Homo sapiens: one gene and its partners. The protein of the gene in region 1 purifies or fractionates together with the protein of each later gene. This does not show direct contact. Each region holds a gene or a part of one and is shown in the gene's direction. Other genes may lie near its edges.

Evidence for each region.
Region 2: the proteins of CDH7 (region 1) and EVA1A fractionate together in Homo sapiens (co-fractionation; one large-scale study listed by BioGRID). This does not show direct contact.
Region 3: the proteins of CDH7 (region 1) and DAB2IP fractionate together in Homo sapiens (co-fractionation; one large-scale study listed by BioGRID). This does not show direct contact.

Annotation. Positions count from the first base shown.
Region 1 is NC_000018.10:65,749,626-65,753,811, forward strand, and holds the start of CDH7 (cadherin-7 isoform 1 preproprotein), read left to right. Parts: upstream 1-1,386; 5' UTR 1,387-1,525; exon of another isoform or gene 1,526-2,327; intron 2,328-4,186. UniProt on the Homo sapiens protein: Cadherins are calcium-dependent cell adhesion proteins. They preferentially interact with themselves in a homophilic manner in connecting cells; cadherins may thus contribute to the sorting of heterogeneous cell types.
Region 2 is NC_000002.12:75,550,853-75,554,570, reverse strand, and holds part of EVA1A (protein eva-1 homolog A), read left to right. Parts: intron 1-3,718. UniProt on the Homo sapiens protein: Acts as a regulator of programmed cell death, mediating both autophagy and apoptosis.
Region 3 is NC_000009.12:121,770,134-121,773,851, forward strand, and holds part of DAB2IP (disabled homolog 2-interacting protein), read left to right. Parts: intron 1-412; coding exon 413-591; intron 592-2,473; coding exon 2,474-3,362; intron 3,363-3,718. UniProt on the Homo sapiens protein: Functions as a scaffold protein implicated in the regulation of a large spectrum of both general and specialized signaling pathways.

The DNA of each region.
Region 1 (4,186 bases):
AATGTTAGGTAAGCAACATAGGATGGTATCTGGAACTTAACAGGAGTCCATAATTGCTGTCAGAATTATTAGCATAGAATTCGGTTTTAAACATTGACTAAATTGAATGGGCGAGGTGGGGGAGGCATGGCGCCAGTTAAATAGCCAGGAGAGGCTGGACTGGGGACAGAAAAGTGTGCTTGACTGCACAAGAAATCAGAGATAATGGTACGGACAAGCCTAAGCCCATGTAACTGGTATCCGAAGAATTACTGCTAAGGTTAAGTAAGAATAAGTGCGTAAGAGAAAGAGGACACTTTCCATTGGTAGAGTGAGAAAAATGAAAGGAAGGTAGTTGGAAATGATCTCTTCCCCCTCCTAACCCCTATGACAGAACACCCAGTCATCAGATTAAAGCGAGCACCAGAGCAGGGGAAAACAAAGCGTGCTCAACTCCAGGGGCTGCACCGCGCTCTAAAGAAAAGACCAGATCCTCTTCCTTCCTTCTTTCCTTCCTTCCACACCTTGCAAGGGTCCTCTGTCCCGCACTGCGAGTAAATCATACACTTTGGAAGTTTAGCATTAGAGAGCCCAGCAGGGGAGAAAATTGTCTGCAAGTTAAAAAAAAAAAAAAAAAAAAAGTAGAACTAGGGCAGTCCGAGGAGATTGAAAGGGCAAAACTATCAAGCAAGAAAACTGTAAGTTCTGATTAGTTTTATGACTTTGCCTTCATGCCTCAGGAGCTCAACTGATCACGGCTTTCACGACAGGCTAAGGTGGGTGTTGGAGGGGCAGCTTGAAAATACCCTCAAAACTCTCCTCCAGCTCCGTGCTTTCAGATGCAAATGCCTCACGGAGAGATGGATGGGCTGCAGCCCCTCCTACTTTCACCCCTCTTCTTTATTTTCCTGCGAAGGAATCCATCTGTACAGATCCGCCAGGCGGGAGGTGGAGGAGGGTGCGCGAGGGTGCGCGCGTGTGTGTGTGCGCGCGTGGCGGCCGAGCGGCTCCGTCTTCGCGTTCTTTTCCAGTAGCCCCCACCGGGTCTCTGGGAGGCGCCGAAGTCTCAGTGGCTCCCTGGGCCGGCCTCCGACAGCGCTGACAGCAGGCGCCCGCCGCCCACCATCGTCGCCCTCTTCCCCTCCCTCTTCGGCCCCGGCTCCGGCGCGCTCTCTCCTCCTCTCCTGCGCGCCCTCTCGCCCTCTCTCTGGCCGCGCGCTCCCGCTGGCTCCGGACCCTGCGTCTCAGCTGCCCGGGCGAGCCGGAGGGGCCCCTCGCAGTGAGCAGACGCAGCGGGCCCCCGGCGCCCGAGGCCGGGGCAGGGTCCCCGCGCACCGCGGAGTGGGCTGTGATTGGAGGAGGAGCCCGTGCCGGGCGGGCCCGAGCGGGTGTCGAGCCGGTTCCTCCAGTCTGCCCCGCGCGCGGAGCTGCGCGCACTGGGTCCCCAAGAGCCCGCGGGCGTCCGGCAGCCGAGCGCACGTTCTTTCGGATGCACACGCCCGGGTCCCTGGCGTCTGACGCCGTGGGGAGGGCAGCGAGGCCCCAGGTGAGTGTGTCTGCCTGCGCGGGGCTGGGGAGGCGCCGCTGGGCAGATGTGCGCCCTTGCTGTGCGCCTTTGGAAGCAGGACTAATCAGTGAGCGGAGAGCGGGCGGGGATGTCCGTGTGGAGTTTCCCTTGGCGTCCCCAAGTTACTGCGTGTTGCAGTGAGATGTGGCTCTGCAAGGCAGGACAGGCTTGTGGACGGAGGCGGGGGCGTTTGGCCCGGAAAGCCGGTGTTGACAGACACCAGGTGCGACACGAGGAGTAGTAGTTGAGGGTAAGAGCAAATCCCGGCACTCTCCAGGTGCAGCGGCAAACATGGGCAGGCTGGAGCACTCTCCTCAAAGAGGACCACAAGCAGGCTCCTCCCTCAACCTCGGACTGATGGGGGCACAACTCCGCGCCGGCTGTGCCGCCGGGTTCTGCAGAGGTCTGAGGCTGGAAGGGGGTATGCGCCGCTTTGGGCAGGAGTCCTTTGAACCATTCGCTCTGGACACCTTTTACCTTTCGTGAAGGTGGAGCTCACTTCAGGGTGCTTTGCTTTTTTCCCCTGTAATTAGTATTCTGCTGATCTGGTTCATCTGCATCCTGCGTCCCCTCCGCCTGGCAGTACCTTAAGTGTGCGCTGGGAAAAGGGCGCCCTGCTTCTCTGAATGCATGGTGGACTTCTTCATGGGTGCACATGGTACACTGCTACTTGCCGGTATTCAACCTTCCAGTGTGGATTAATGAGAAAAGACCCGTTATTCTGTACCGCTTCACGTTTTAGATCGTTAACCCTACGGATTTCTTAAATGTCATAGTTCAGGTGAGTAAAGATTGGCAATGAGTTCACCCAGCACTGGGCAAATGGCAAACTATTGAGAAACCATCAAGGATTGGGTGTATCAAGGCTTTGGAGATCTGCAAATTGAACGAGGAATGTACTTATAACATCTTTTGCTTTGCAATAAATATCTTGTCTCTATTAGATCGTTTATTAAGTGAGACCTTTACGTAAGACTTGTCCTCATAATTTCTGTAGCTACTAGACAGGTGTTCAGATCATTTTTCATAGAGAAGTAGATAAACATAACTTTATACAAAAAATAAGAGAAAAATGTAAGTGACTTGTTAATATATGGCCCTTGCCAAGTGACAAGTATGTATTTTTAAAAGCAGATAACACCTCACACAAAAAATGTGTATTTTAAGAGTTTAAGAGCAGTAGCAGTCTTTTTTTCTAAAGGAAAGTTTGCATAGACACAATATCTAAATAGTTTTAAGAGAGTCTTTATAAAGGCAAATTGTTATGGGAGAAAAGAGCTAAGAAAAAAAATTAATTACATTTGAAGCGTTCAGTAACTCACCAAGAATTACTTCTTTCCTAAAGAACTAGTTAGACTTTGGTTTACCTAGGATATTTTCTTGTTCTATATGTCAAGGGGAAATGCATGAAGAATCCTTTTCTTTATTTTTAAGGCTATTTTGAACAGTATGAATTAAAATGCAAAAGAATTGAGACAGGTAGGAAGACTGGCAACTTTGTGGAAGTCTTGCTTCTGTGTTAGTGTTTAATATGGAGTGGGATAGCAGAGCAATTAGGTAACATCCAACGTCAATAGTCTTATCTGGGAAAGCTAGCCGAGTCTGTCTGAGGAAAGAAAAATAAAGAAAACAATAATCAGTAGCACAGACCATCACCCTGCTAAAAGCTATTAAGGTTTGCAGCTTTAATAAAAGGGCATTGTGCACTTACAACGTGAGATATTATTGTAATTAAGGGCTGCAAGAGGTCATTAGAATTGTGTTAATCACTTTACAGACTCACAAGTCTTCTTAAGTCTACTTTTATTGATTTAATAGCACAGAGCTTTTTCCTTTCTTATAAAAGGATAATTGTAAAGCATCTATATTACTGCAATTTACCCTTGAATTGACTCTAGTGTTTAGTGTCCAATGAAGAAGAGAGGGTGGAGAGCACGCGGAGTTGGCCACTGTTCAGCCTTCCTTGGCCTAAAAATCAAATGACTGTCTCTCCTGGGCACTAGTGTCTTTACTGGTTTCCCTGTTATTCAGCATTTTGCTTTTTTGATGGCAAAGCTGATATAAACTCCTCAGAGTGTATACTGATATAAGGAAGTGAATATATTTTTGTGTTGAGCAAATACTTTTTTGTCAGATCTTTCAGAAATAATTTATAAAATACTAAACTCACAAATTGTTCTGTGCTGTGGATATTTATTGCTGAATGGTTACAATCTTCCTGGATTTCATAAGGTTTTACATTTATTGCATTAATAGCTTGTATCACATCACAGTTCTCTCTCTCTTACACACACACAAATGTCTTTTACTTGATTGGAAGTCTTCAAAGCCTTAGCTTAAATTGGAAGTTTCAGGAACTTCTAAAATAACTAACATGCATTAGTTGATTGCAAAGGGTTTGAGATGGAAGCTTTTTCTTCCTTGGATGAAGGAATCAGATGCTACTTGGTGGGGTGATAAAGGGGAGCTGAGGACAAGGAAAGAAGACATGTGATCAGAGTCTTGTGTGTGACCATCTCCCCAGCGTCTGACAAGCAGAGCAGATCTAGCTGTAACCAGCAATACACGAGTGCCTCCTCTGGGGATTTGCTGGTTCTGCAGAAAGATACCCCTGCAAGCACTTCCCCCTTGTTTTTCTGC
Region 2 (3,718 bases), on another chromosome or scaffold:
TAGTCTCCAGAGAGCTGTTATCATCAAAGATACTTTTAGAAAATCTGCTTTCGAAAAAGAAGGTGAAAGAGTGGGCCGCTGTGGTTGGGATAGGAATGGCCATTTCCTCCCCGCTTTTCCCCCTTTCCTTCTCCCCAGCCTGGCATCTGAGGCTGTGCCTGGGGGCAGTGAGATGCTCTTTGTTCTGGGGTTCAAAAACTCTCTTCCTCCTCTTGCCCCCTCTTTGATCACCAAGGCAGCCTGCACTTTGCCCTCCATGGTGAGAGGAGAGGGAAATGCTGCTTAGTAGAGAAGCAACCATAAACTTGCAAGGAAAAGAAGACTTTACAAAACACCTGCTGTAATTTAAGCCTCTCCCCTTTTGCCTTGCCCCCTCCTGCCCTTGTCATTCAGATGGGGCTGGTGGTAGCTGCAGGGAGCAGACTTCAGGGGATCTTGTTTCTGCAAGGGGACTTTGATCAAAAGGGCTGCCTAAAGCTGTCTTTCTCTGGGCACCTCCACAAACACACTCATCTTGTCAAGACAAGACAGGCCATAGCAGCCCATGGGAGGAGACGGGTAGGGCCTGTTACTGGAAGAAGCATTTCTTTCCTGAGTTCCCCCATCCTGAGTGCCACTTGGCCAAGCAACCTCTGACAGTGGCATCCTTCTTTGCTGCACTGAGATGTCGCTATGAACCTGAGAGTGGGCGGAATGAGCACTGGAGGAGAGTCAGCAATGCCATTTACTTGCTATGAGACCTCGGTCCTTTAATCTCCTAGTGGGTCAGTCACACAGGGCAGGAATGGTTGGCCTGGACATTCTCCAGTGTTAGACCCTGCTGCATGTCAAAAGCAGGGTGCACTGTAGGATCTTGTGGAACTTCAGAAGACAATGACTGGACATTTAGTCTGAAAAAGACACACATGAAAGTAAAAGTGTTCCTGTGGGTGTGCTAATGTGCTCACAGAGACAGCTTGGTGGCCTTGGTGTGTCTGCTCAGCTCAAGCTGCCAACACTTATTGACACCTTCATGTGCCAGGCACAGTTCCAGGCTCTGGAAACAGGGATGAACAAGATACTCTTTGTGCCCAAGGAGCTCAGCAATCCAGTGTGGAGACAGATGAGGAAATCAGAGATAGTAATGCAATGTTTTGCTGTCCATCTCTCATTACAGTAAGTTCTCTGAAATCAGGACATATGTCTTGTTGATTCCCAAATCACCAGAGCCTACTGTAAACTGGCCTATGGCAGATGCTCAATCAATGAATGTTGTACTACCCTAAAGTACCACACTAGAGGCAATCACAGGGTGCTATGTGCACCCACAGGAGGGACACCTAAACTCAGCTTGGAGAGCAGGTGAGTCCAAGACAACATGCATCAAAGAGGCTGAGATGGAGCATCCAGGCTGATGAGAGGAGAAGTGGAGCCTAGGCAGATGGGCCGGTGAGAAGTCCAGCATGTCCAGGTGAGCAAACCAGGGCTGCTTCAAGAAGGGAAGGCAGATAGGCATGGCTGGGGACAAAGGAAGTCAGCCTGTGAAGGGGCAAGGTAATCACATCTGGATTTGTTAGAGAATTGGAATTTTACTTTGAAGATAGTGGGGAGCTACTGCAGGATTTCACACAGAGGAGAGACTGGGTCAAAGTTTTGTTCTAATACTGTTCTGGCAATAGAGTAAATATTGGAGAAGAATAAGATAGGTGGCAAAAAGACCAGTTAGCATGTTATTGCAGTTTAGGGGATGAAAAAGCCTGAGATTTGGAGTCAGATACATCTCAGCCTCCTTCCCAGCCACACTCCCTGTAACTTGGGCTGTTTAGCAAATGTCTCTGAGCCTCTGTCTTATCTGAAAACAGTGGACTCTACTTCCTCCCTTATGGATGGTATGCATGGTAGACAGGGTTACATACAATGAAGTATGGGAAATGTCTACTACAGTGGTTTATTTGTAATTGGCAAGTCATACTAGTGGCCAGTATTATTTTTAATATTGTTGTGACTTACTATCATCTAGGTGAGAAATAATGAGATTCTAATAAGACACTGGTAATTAGGGTGGAGAATTGGGCAGACTCAAGAAAGCCTTTGGCAATAAAGTTGGCATGATTTGGTGACTGATTGAACAGGGGAGTAAGGGAGGGGCAGGAGTCTAGGATGATTCTGACATTTTGGCCTGGCATCCAGTGGGAAGGATAGTGGGGCTATTCATTAGGAGAGAGAAGGGACAGGGAGGAGGGAGCAGCATTTATAGGAAGGATGATGAACTCAGTTTCAGATATGTTGAGTTTGAAATATTAAGATAGTTAGGGAGAGATGGCTAGTGGGCAGATGTTTTCTAGGTTTGACATTCCCGAGAAAAGTCTTCAAGATTTACAAGAAAGCTAACTTTTTTTTTTTTAAGAGACAGAGTCTCACTTTGTGACCACGCTGGCATGCAGCAGCACAATCATAGCTCACTGCAGTCTTGAACTTGAACCCCTGGGCTCAGGTGATCCTCCTGATTCAGCCTCCTGAGTAGCTGGGACTACAGTTATATGCCACTATGTCCAGCTAATTTGTAAAACTTTTTGTAGAGCAGGGTCTCACTATGTTGACCAGGCTGGTTTTGAACTTCTGGCCTCAAGTGATCCTCCTGCCTCAGTCCCCCAAAGTGCCAGAATTACAGGCATGAGCTACGGTGCCCGGCCCACAAACAAACTTTAACCAAAGGTAGTGAAGTCATGGCATGGATCAGTTGGTTACGGAGGGTTATGGAGTATGGGAAGAGGAATTATAATAGCTAATGTTTATTGAGTGTGTACTGTATGTTCTAAACACTTTACGTGTATTAATCCTCTCAACAACCATTGTTAGGAAGGACTACTATTGTTTTACCTATTTTACAGCTGAGTAAACCTAGGCACAGAGATGGTAAGTAATTTGCCCAAGGTCACACAGCTATAAGTCATGGACCTAGGATTTTAAGTCAGCTATCAGGATGCCAGGCATGTGCCAGATTGCTTCCGAGAGTGGCAGTACTAGGGCACAACACTGACCTCAGGGAAGGAAGGAGAGAACCCAGTGAAGTCAACAGGGAAGGGGATGTGCAGAAAGGCAGGAGGAAATGGGAGACTGGGATGCGGAAGAGGAGAGTTTCCAGGAGAGGGGGATCAACAGCTTCAAATGATATGGAAGAATGAGAGATCTGAAATGTTCACGGATTTGGAAATTCCAAAGCTATTGACGACTTGGTGAGAGGAGTCTAACAGATGAGGGGAGTCTAACAGATGAGGGGAGCTAATGAACAAATGTGAGGTGAGGAAGTGGACATACCAAACTTTAGCAATTGTTTTTAGAGGCTTGTCTATGAAAGTAACATGCAAGAAAAGACAGCAGCTAGAGGTATTAGGTAGAGACAGTGTTTTAAAGATGGAAAAGACCAGCACGTTTTTTTTGGTTTTTTTTGTTTTGTTTTGTTTTGTTTTTGAGCAGAGTCTTGCTCTGTCGCCCAGGCTGGAATGTGTGGTGCGATCTTGGCTCACTGCAACCTCTGCCTCCTGGGTTCAAGTGACTCTCCTGCCTCAGCATCCCAAGTAGCTGGGATTACAGACACACACTACTATGCCTGGCTAATTTTTTGTATTTTTAGTAAAGACAGCATTTCACCATGCTGGCCAGGCTGGTCTCGAACTCCTGACTTCGTGATCTGCCCTCCTTGGCCTCCCAAAGTGCTGGGATTACAGGCGTGAGCCAC
Region 3 (3,718 bases), on another chromosome or scaffold:
GTGGGTCAGGCCCCAGCCCATCCCGTGGAGTAAGTGATGTGAGAGGGGCTGTCACAGAAGCCTCTGGATGGAGAGGTGGAGGTGTGGAAATGCTGGGATTCCATGTGTGCTTTCCTCTCTGCGGAGGCACCAGGGCAGGGCAAACTGAAGGAGAGGCTTGCACTAGGTCAGCGTCTCCCACTGTGGGCCTCCTACTCCTGCCCTAGAAATGTCCGGGAGCTGGTTAAAAATGTAGATTTACCGATTCCTGGGCTCACCCCCCTCCCAGACCCAGTGGCTCTGACTGGCAGCAGGTGGGGATCTGCACTTCTGACAGGCTCCGCAGTGGTTTTGAGCCATAGTGGCTGCAGCACATACAGCCTACCCATGTGGTCCCAGGAGGTCACACCTGCCTCTTGCTGTGCCTTTACAGAGCATAGTATCCAAACTGGGACCCCTGCCTCGGATCCTGAGGGACGTCCACACAGCACTGAGCACCCCAGGTAGCGGGCAGCTCCCAGGGACCAATGACCTGGCCTCCACACCGGGCTCTGGCAGCAGCAGCATCTCAGCTGGGCTGCAGAAGATGGTGATTGAGAACGATCTTTCCGGGTAAGAGCTGCCAGCCATGTTGGGTGTGGTGGGTGCGTGTGCAGACTAGGCACAGCCCATCTGTAATCTCAGATGGGGAAAGAGGATGCCTACATAGTGTTTATAAAACAAGCCTGGCAAGACTTGAGTTGTACAGGTCCTAAGTGGTGAACCTCCATTTGGGAAAAATCAGGGAAGCCTTCCTAGAGGAGGTGATGCTATAGGTTTGTTTTGTTTTGGGAAAAGTAGCATTTCCATTGGTGGAAAAGGCATTCTAGACAGAGGGACAAGCACAAGCAAAGACATGATGTGTCAGAGAATAATTGCTGGTCCCAAATACCCCCAGCATTTCCAGATCCCCTGATATTTGTTAAAAATACACATGTTCCTGGTATTTCCTGAGCCTGAGTCAGAATCTCCAGAAGTGTTTAGTTGGGGGTGTTTTCAATAGGAATTCGGTGGCTCTGCCAGGCTTTGAGGCTGGGAACAGCAGAAAACATAAAGTGATGCTGAGACCCAGTCCTGGGGTCTGCTCTGCCTAAATAAGACACACACGGCAGAGTGGAAGGCAAAATGTTCTTGTTTAAGTCAAAATAGAGACATTTCTATCAGTTCATGTTGAAGCATTTCTGCTCTACCCCTACTCTCCCCTCTCCCGCCAGTGATCCTTCTTACCCCAGCATGTGAGGCCGCAGCTGTAGCAGCAGAGTTGGGAGTGTGGTCTCCCCCAAGGTGGTGGCAGGGCAGGCTTTTAAGCAGGGGAGGGTGCTGAGATCAAGAACCTGGGGTTAGGGGAGCCCAGGAGGGGCCAGAGATGCAGGTCCACTGAGTCTTGCATTGGGTCTGTTCAGTGAGTGTGCCAAGTGAAGACAAGCAGAGTCACATGCCAAGAGTTTGGAGTGGGGGGTGCAGTAGACAGCCCTTGAGAGGCTGAGAGGCAGCCGGGCCCGTGAGTTCTGAAAAGACTGACCTGGTGTGTGGCCTGGGCAGCCAGGCCCCCACTGCTCTCCGTCTTTCCTGGCTCATCTGCTGCTCTAGCCAGTTCTCCCAGGCCCGTGAGCACTGCAGCCCATCTCAGGGAGTGGCACTTCCTCTCCGTCTGAGGCTAAGCCAACCCATTCCCCATTCCAAGCCATATCAAGCCCCCCAAGTCCTTGCAGCCTTCAGTTCCCCCCACCCACATTCTTCTCTCCAAAGCCCCCCTGGACCCCGCCACAGTTGTGCTTTCTTCCAAGGAGCTAGCTTCTGGGGAGGGGCCAGGGAGAGGCCAGAGAAAAGCGTAGAATGAGGAGGAGGCCAGGGCAAGTGCAGCCCTCCCACCAAGTCATGCTCTCCACAGAGCCTGCTCTCATTCCTTGTTTTTGCCAGGAACTCCAGCCCCCGCCTGCCAGTCAAACAAGGGAGCGGCAGCAGGAGGCTGGGCAAGAGGAGGTTTCACCGGGCCCCCACTTCAGTTACCAGTCTGATTAGGAACAAGAGGGAAGAGGCAGAGGGAACCCAGTGACTCTGAAGTTGGGGTTCTCAATGCAGGATCCGTGGATAGCAGAGAGCCACTGAGTTGTGGCTTAGGGCTTAGCTAAGGAGGAGTTTTCCAGAGCAAGCCAGGCCCCAGTACCCATTGTCCCAAGATGCAGCTGAACAGGGAAGGGGTCTTCCAGGCAGCGCGGCCTGAAATGTGCAGTGCTGGCCCCTAAAGAAGAGGTTCTGTGCAGGAGCAGCCGCCTCAGCCTCTGGTCCCCGGATTCTCCCACTCCTGCCACCCCAGCGCATCCATCTCCCCAGCGCTGGCTCAGGCTGCCAGGCCCCGGCAGGTTGGCGGGTGCTGTCGGTTTGGACCCGCCTTGGCTGCACTCACAGTTCTTCTTTTCCCCTTCTTTCCCTGTGTGTGCTTGTCTCCCTGCAGTCTGATAGATTTCACCCGGTTACCGTCTCCAACCCCCGAAAACAAGGACTTGTTTTTTGTCACAAGGTCCTCCGGGGTCCAGCCCTCACCTGCCCGCAGCTCGAGTTACTCGGAAGCCAACGAGCCTGATCTTCAGATGGCCAACGGTGGCAAGAGCCTCTCCATGGTGGACCTCCAGGACGCCCGCACGCTGGATGGGGAGGCAGGCTCCCCGGCGGGCCCCGACGTCCTCCCCACAGATGGGCAGGCCGCTGCAGCTCAGCTGGTGGCCGGGTGGCCGGCCCGGGCAACCCCAGTGAACCTGGCAGGGCTGGCCACGGTGCGGCGGGCAGGCCAGACACCAACCACACCAGGCACCTCCGAGGGCGCGCCAGGCCGGCCCCAGCTGTTGGCACCGCTCTCCTTCCAGAACCCTGTGTACCAGATGGCGGCTGGCCTGCCGCTGTCACCCCGTGGCCTTGGCGACTCAGGCTCTGAGGGCCACAGCTCCCTGAGCTCACACAGCAACAGCGAGGAGTTGGCGGCTGCTGCCAAGCTGGGAAGTTTCAGCACTGCCGCGGAGGAGCTGGCTCGGCGGCCCGGTGAGCTGGCACGGCGACAGATGTCACTGACTGAAAAAGGCGGGCAGCCCACGGTGCCACGGCAGAACAGTGCTGGCCCCCAGAGGAGGATCGACCAGCCTCCGCCCCCACCCCCGCCGCCACCTCCTGCCCCCCGCGGCCGGACGCCCCCCAACCTGCTGAGCACCCTGCAGTACCCAAGACCCTCAAGCGGAACCCTGGCGTCGGCCTCACCTGATTGGGTGGGCCCCAGTACCCGCCTGAGGCAGCAGTCCTCTTCCTCCAAGGGGGACAGCCCAGAACTGAAGCCACGGGCAGTGCACAAGCAGGTCAGTGCTGCTAGTCAGAGGGCAGGGCTGGGCACTTGGGCCCAGCTGGGGCTGTCATACCCCATACCATGCTCCTCCTCTCGGTCATTTCACCTCCACCCTCACCCAGCTGCCATCCCATCCCACCAGCCTGCCACATGCGCCACCACCCCCTCCCCCTGGCTTCTTCCTGAATCCTGTGAACCAGGGACACTGTAGCCTTGGGGAACTCCAGGCTCCTCTGTCAGTGCCCCTAGGGGCAGGCTGGGGTCAGAGAGAAAGAGGAGGAGAGTGCATTCATCTTCGGTTCCAAGCCTGTCGAAGCGCCTACCCAGCTCTGCCCCCACACGCCCCTCCCAAAATGTTTTCACAGGCTG